Linked DNA regions of Homo sapiens: region 2 is linked to region 1. Evidence: fine-mapped expression QTL. A gene starts in region 1. The other region holds a variant in brackets. All regions are shown on one strand. Distances are from middle to middle. Region 1 holds the start of GDE1 (glycerophosphodiester phosphodiesterase 1). Region 2 overlaps TMC5 (transmembrane channel like 5).

The links. PIP is the estimated chance that this variant, and not a neighbour inherited with it, causes the effect. A credible set is the group of variants that fine-mapping cannot tell apart.
Region 2: its variant is the best candidate, but not a certain one, in a credible set for the expression of GDE1 in CD8 T cells (CEDAR, PIP 0.86).

Annotation. Positions count from the first base shown.
Region 1 is chr16:19,520,629-19,523,544 of GRCh38, reverse strand. It overlaps GDE1 (glycerophosphodiester phosphodiesterase 1), which reads left to right and starts at 1,447. Exons shown (of 6, transcript NM_016641.4): 1 at 1,447-1,841. The coding sequence starts at 1,581. RefSeq lists a silencer at 1,486-1,655 and enhancers at 1,766-1,935, 1,246-1,980, 2,106-2,165.
Region 2 is chr16:19,495,130-19,498,045 of GRCh38, reverse strand. TMC5 (transmembrane channel like 5) reads right to left here. Exons shown (of 22, transcript NM_001261841.2): 21 at 883-925; 22 at 1-126. The coding sequence ends at 80. Among named protein-coding and RNA genes, the nearest start is that of TMC5-AS1, 8.7 kb to the right of the region's middle. RefSeq lists a silencer at 1,325-1,536. The variant TTTTTG/G (reference allele first, on the strand shown) is at 1,154.

The sequences.
Region 1 (2,916 bases):
TGAACCCACCGGGCGTGATGGCTTACGCCTATAATTCCAACATTTTGGAAGCCGAGGCGGAAGGATCGCTTGAGCCCAGGAGTTCGAGATCAGCCTGGGCAACAAAGGGAGACGGCATCTCTACAAAAATTTTAAACGTTAGCCGGGTGGGGTGGCGCGAGCCTGTGATCCCAGCTACTCGGGAGGCTGAGGTCGGAAGATCGCTTGAGCCCAGGAGGTCGACGTTGCAGTGAGCCATGATTGCACCACTGCATTCCAACCTGGGCGATAGAGTGAGACTGTCTGAAAGAAAAAAAAAAAAAGGCTGAATCCTAGATGCCAACTGGAAGGCTTAAGACATCTATCCCCTTTTGCAAATCAGTGGGAAAATGCACTAAAGGAAAAAAAGGTAACAGAAAAATCCCTGAATATTTTTGCAAAGTTCTCTACATAAAAATGTTACCAGCCCTCCAAAATATGTCCAGGGGCCCCTTTTCACTCCCTAACTCGGCTTCATGGTCTATCTCTCTTACCCTCCTTCCAGTGCCTGTTTTTGCATATGTAAAATGGGGGTTTTAAAAGTGCCTATCACAAGGGTGGTTGTGAGGCACAGTTGAGGTAACTCCTGTACAGTGCCTGGTACAAAAGCCCTTAGCAGAAGTAAGATTAGGGGGAGGAGGAGTGAAAATGTCACAAATCACTGGGGAGGCCTTTATGTCAGTCCCCACCCTGCCATTAACTGCTTAATTCACCTATCCTCAGTTTCCGCATCTATGAAATAAGGGAATCCTTAAAACCCCTTCCAGTTTTATAATCCGATTGTGCCTTCTTTGCTAGGCTCTTCCAGTCCCCCAGAATCTGGAAAATAAAGTCGATTGAAATCAGTCTCCTGATAGTAACTGTTAGGCTGTATTGAGAATGAGATAAGCATATAAAGTGTTTGCTCGTCAAGTACCTGGGACATGGTAAGTGCTCTGTAAACGTTAGGTGTACTTGCTAACTTTTATTTCCTCCCACAAGAATGTGAATCCCATAAGAGCAAAAACCCTGTAGGTCCTGTTCAACTGTGTCCGGAGCACCTGGACCGGTATTTGGCACATCTTGAATTGAACTGAACTGAACTGAATTGAATTGAATTGAATTGATAGTCTAAGCATCCTGCCTCTCCAGGTTCCCTGGAATTCAGTTTCCTCAAGGGCAGATAAAGGAGTCACTAAAATCCCTTCCAGTCCTACAGCTTTAGGATGGTTCTTATCCCTCCTTTTCTCGCCTAGGAGTCTGAACGCCCAGGTTGAAGTTCAGACCTCGGAAAACCCTAACCCACCTTAGATTTGGAACGTGAGCCTGGGGCCTGGGGCCTGGGCCCTCCCCCGTTGCCATGGAGCGGCTCCGCCCACTGGCGCTGCGAATCCCGATCCCTGATTGGCTGGGCGGCCGACTCCCTCTCTGGATGTGTCTGCTGCCGCCATTGTGCGGCGCTGGTCCCCTCAGAGGGTTCCTGCTGCTGCCGGTGCCTTGGACCCTCCCCCTCGCTTCTCGTTCTACTGCCCCAGGAGCCCGGCGGGTCCGGGACTCCCGTCCGTGCCGGTGCGGGCGCCGGCATGTGGCTGTGGGAGGACCAGGGCGGCCTCCTGGGCCCTTTCTCCTTCCTGCTGCTAGTGCTGCTGCTGGTGACGCGGAGCCCGGTCAATGCCTGCCTCCTCACCGGCAGCCTCTTCGTTCTACTGCGCGTCTTCAGCTTTGAGCCGGTGCCCTCTTGCAGGGCCCTGCAGGTGCTCAAGCCCCGGGACCGCATTTCTGCCATCGCCCACCGTGGCGGCAGCCACGACGCGCCCGAGAACACGCTGGCGGCCATTCGGCAGGTGAGACCCCCACGTTCGCGCCCCTCGGTCCTCCCGAGAGCTCGGACTTCTACTTTTCCTTCCCAGGGTTCCCCGATCTTCTCAGGACGGCCTTCCCACTTCCTCATTCGTCCACAAGGCACACTCCCGGCCCTTGATCGCTCCCAGTGTCTAGGGATCTCCGGACTTGAGGTTTTATATTTACAGAAGACAGCAGATATGTATATAGTTTCTGTGCGCCTGACGCTAAGGTTACATACAGCCAGGAACAAGGTCAAAAGTGTCCCTGGTTTACAGAGTGTACATCGGAATGGGGGAGGCAAGCCTTAAACAAGTAAACACATAAATGAGATAACTTTAAGAGAGTGAAAGGTGCAATGAAGAAATCGGGGGAACTCGAAGGAAAGAGTTACGCTATTTTATTTAGATGGAATAGTCAAGAGAAATCGTCTCCGAAGAAGCAACATTTGAACAGAAACCGGAATTATAAGGAGCCAGGCAGGTGCAGAAGGTCCTGAGATGGGAATAATATAGGGGTGTTCAGGTAACAGAAGAGGCAGTGTGTGGCCTGACTTCAAGGAAGAGAACAAAGACTGGTGTGTGAATGAAGTAGAAAATGGGTCAGGTCAAATAGGTTCTTGGTCAGTAATTGAGGTTAGTCTAAATAGATCACCCTTCACAAGACATACGTTTGCTTGTCTTGTAAATCACTTGAGTCATTTCCTTATCACCTTTTCCCCAGACACACACATTCGCACTCGCACAACCCTGGCAGCTGGACTCACATCAGTTTCTGCCCCCTCCTTTTCACAAGGCACTCCTGAAACTTTTGATACCTCCCAGCTCTTGGCATTCTCCTAGCTTCATAATAATGACAGCTTACAGAGAGGGCTTTTCAGTGGATTAGGCACTTTTGCATCTGTGTAAATATATCTGATTCTCTTCTTTTTTATTTTTCTCTCTCTTCTTCCTTCCTTCTTCTTCTTTTTTTTTTTTTTACTTTACAGAGTCTCACTCTTTTACCCAGGCTGGAGGGCAGTGGTGCAATCTCCACGCACTGCAACCCCTGCCTCCCGTGTTCAAGCGATTCTCGTGC
Region 2 (2,916 bases), 25 kb after region 1:
GCACAGGTGGCATGGAAGAAATCATTCCATTTTCGTCTCCTCCCCTTATTTGATTGGTGTCTGGTTACCAAAAGAGTCATCAGGCCCTTGGATTACCTTCTTGAACTGATCTTCTAGATCGCAAGTCTAGGTTTGACACAGGAAAGAGAAGTTAACGCAGGCACACTCTGCCCCATCTCTACAAGGGAAAGACCAGCTTGCCTTCAAGATTCCATAGCTTCTCATGCCTTCTTTGCCTCTTCCTTTTAGTTTCTATAATCCTTCCCTTGAACTCCCATCACTGGAAGTCATCAGTAAATGCTATCCCCCAAAAATAAATGGGTTTGCTTGTTTGTTTCCTGCCCAGAATTCGCTCTCCTGGCATCAGCCCCAGATTTTCTTTAGGAAGTCACCCTTCCCTACTCTTGGTCCCTATGGTCTTCATGGTTGCACCACCTGCATCTACAGATGAAATCATGTGATCAAGGGAACTGCCACATTTTTGCACCCACAACAATTGGTTCATAGACGGGGACATCACCCAGTCAGATCCTATGAAACACCGTGAGAATCCTGGGTCCCTCAGTCTTTCCCACCAGACTGACTCTGAGAAGATATAAGAAGTTGATAAAGCTGTCTTGCACTTATTAGGCAGAGTCTATTGCAAAAGGAACTAACATGGGTAAGAACGGAACTGAAAGAAACCGGGTTCTGGTGACACTGTGAGTTCCTGCGTTAGGCAAGGCCTAAAGCAAGAATTATTCTTGGAATTTTGTTTAAGCCAGTTTGGATCCAATTTGCAACTGAAAAAGTAATGGACACATGAGCAATTCTTACACTTGTCTTAGGATATTTCACCAGAAATAAATTAGTGTCTTATTCTGTCCCAGTTTAATTACTCACCAAGACTGCCATCATGTTCCCCCAAATGCAAAAAGCCTTGTTGCTGAAAAAGAAAAAAACAAGCAGCCACGTCACGGAGGAAGAATGCAGATTCTGGGTCTTGTCACATATTTGGCACAATTTGTGAGCCCCTCACCATTTTATAGAAGTTAAGGGATGAGAGATTAAGGCCAAGTCTCCGCCATAGAAATATTGAACATGTTTTGTTTTTTAGGGAGAGTGATTCCATTCATTCATTCCACAGATACTCTTTTTTTTTTTTTTTTTTTTT[TTTTTG/G]ACAGAGTCTTGCTTTATCTCCTAGACTGGAGTGGAATGGCATGATCTCGGCTCACTGCAACCTCCGCCTCTCGGGTTCCAGCGATTTTCCCGCCTCAGCCTCTGGAGTAGCTGGGATTATAGGTGCCTGCCACCACGCCCAGCTAATTTTTTTTTTTTATTTTTAGTAGAGACAGGGTTTCACCATGTTGGTCAGGCCGGTCTCAAACTCCTGACCTCAAGTGATCTGTCCACCTCGGCCTCCCAAAGTGCTGGGATTACAGGCGTGAGCCACCGCACCTGGCCGTTCCACAGATATTCACTGAGCATTCATATTATGCCAGGTAATAAATTAGGACGTGGGGTGACAAGTGCACAGACGTGGTCCTCACCTTCAGAGAATCTACCTTTAGGCCTCTAGATCCCTTACCTAAATTGTGCTGACAGTATAAATTTGCACAGATGGTAAATTACTTGTCAGTCACTTCTGTCAAGATCACAATTTCCAACATAAGTGGTATTTGCGTTAAGGTGGATTTACTGTTCATCTGTATTTTCAGGACACTCAGGAAGCAAGCAAGGCTTTGGAATTAGAGCAGGGTTTCATGTATCTTTATATTCTCTTGGTAAGAATGAAATTGATTAAATCTTTTTAAGGGAATGATATAGCAATATCTATTAACATTGTCATGTACGTGCTTTGTGGCAGAAATATTCACAAAAAATAACTTTTTAATTTTTTTTTTTTTTTGACACGGAGTCTTGCACTGTTGCCCAGGCTGGAGTGCAATGGTGTGACCTTGGCTCACTGCAATCTCCACCTCCTGGGTCCAAGTGATTTCCTGTGCTTCAGCCTCCCAAGTAGCTGGGATTACAGATGTGCACCACAACACCCAGCTAAGTTTTCTTGTTTGTTTGTTTTTGTTTTTTATATTTTTACTAGAGATGGGTTTCACCATGTTTGCTGGGCTGGTCTCGAACCCCTGACCTCAAGTGATAAGCCCGCCTCGGCCTCCCAAAGTGCTGGGGATCACAGGAGGGAGCCACTGTGCCCAGGGTAATTTTTTTTAGAGAGAGGGTCTTGTTCTGTCTCCCAAGCTGGAGTGCGGTGATGGGATCATAGCTCACTGTAGCCTCAAACTCCTGGGTTTGAGCAGTCCTCTCACCTCAGCTTCCTGAGTAGCTGAGGCTACAGTTGCATGCCACCGTGCCTAATTATTAAAATTTTTTAAGGGATGGGGTCTCGCTATGTTGGTCTTAAACTCCTGGCCTCAAGCAGTCCTCCCCTCCCACCTCAGCCTCCTGAGTAGCTGCGATTATAAACGCACAAAAAATAATTGTAACAAAATGTTTCATTACCTACTGTTTTAAGTATTTAAAAACATAGAAACAACCCAAATATCCAAATATGTACAGAATTAAACATCGTTCAAGATATAGTATTTAGTGGTGGGCTGCGGGGGAGGGAAGTTATGATACTATTTGTATAATATAGCCTCACTTTTGTAATAAACAAGTAAATTAAAGTGTTGGTAGATACAGGTATGTTTGCAGATGCCTAGGGAAATAGATTTGCAAGAATAGACACTGAAGTAGGCCGGGCGCGGTGGCTCACGCCTGTAATCCCAGCACTTTGGGAGGCCGAGGCGGGCGGATCACGAGGTCAGGAGATCGAGACCATCCCGGCTAAAACGGTGAAACCCCGTCTCTACTAAAAATACAAAAAATTAGCCGGGCGTAGTGGCGGGCGCCTGTAGTCCCAGCTACTTGGGAGGCTGA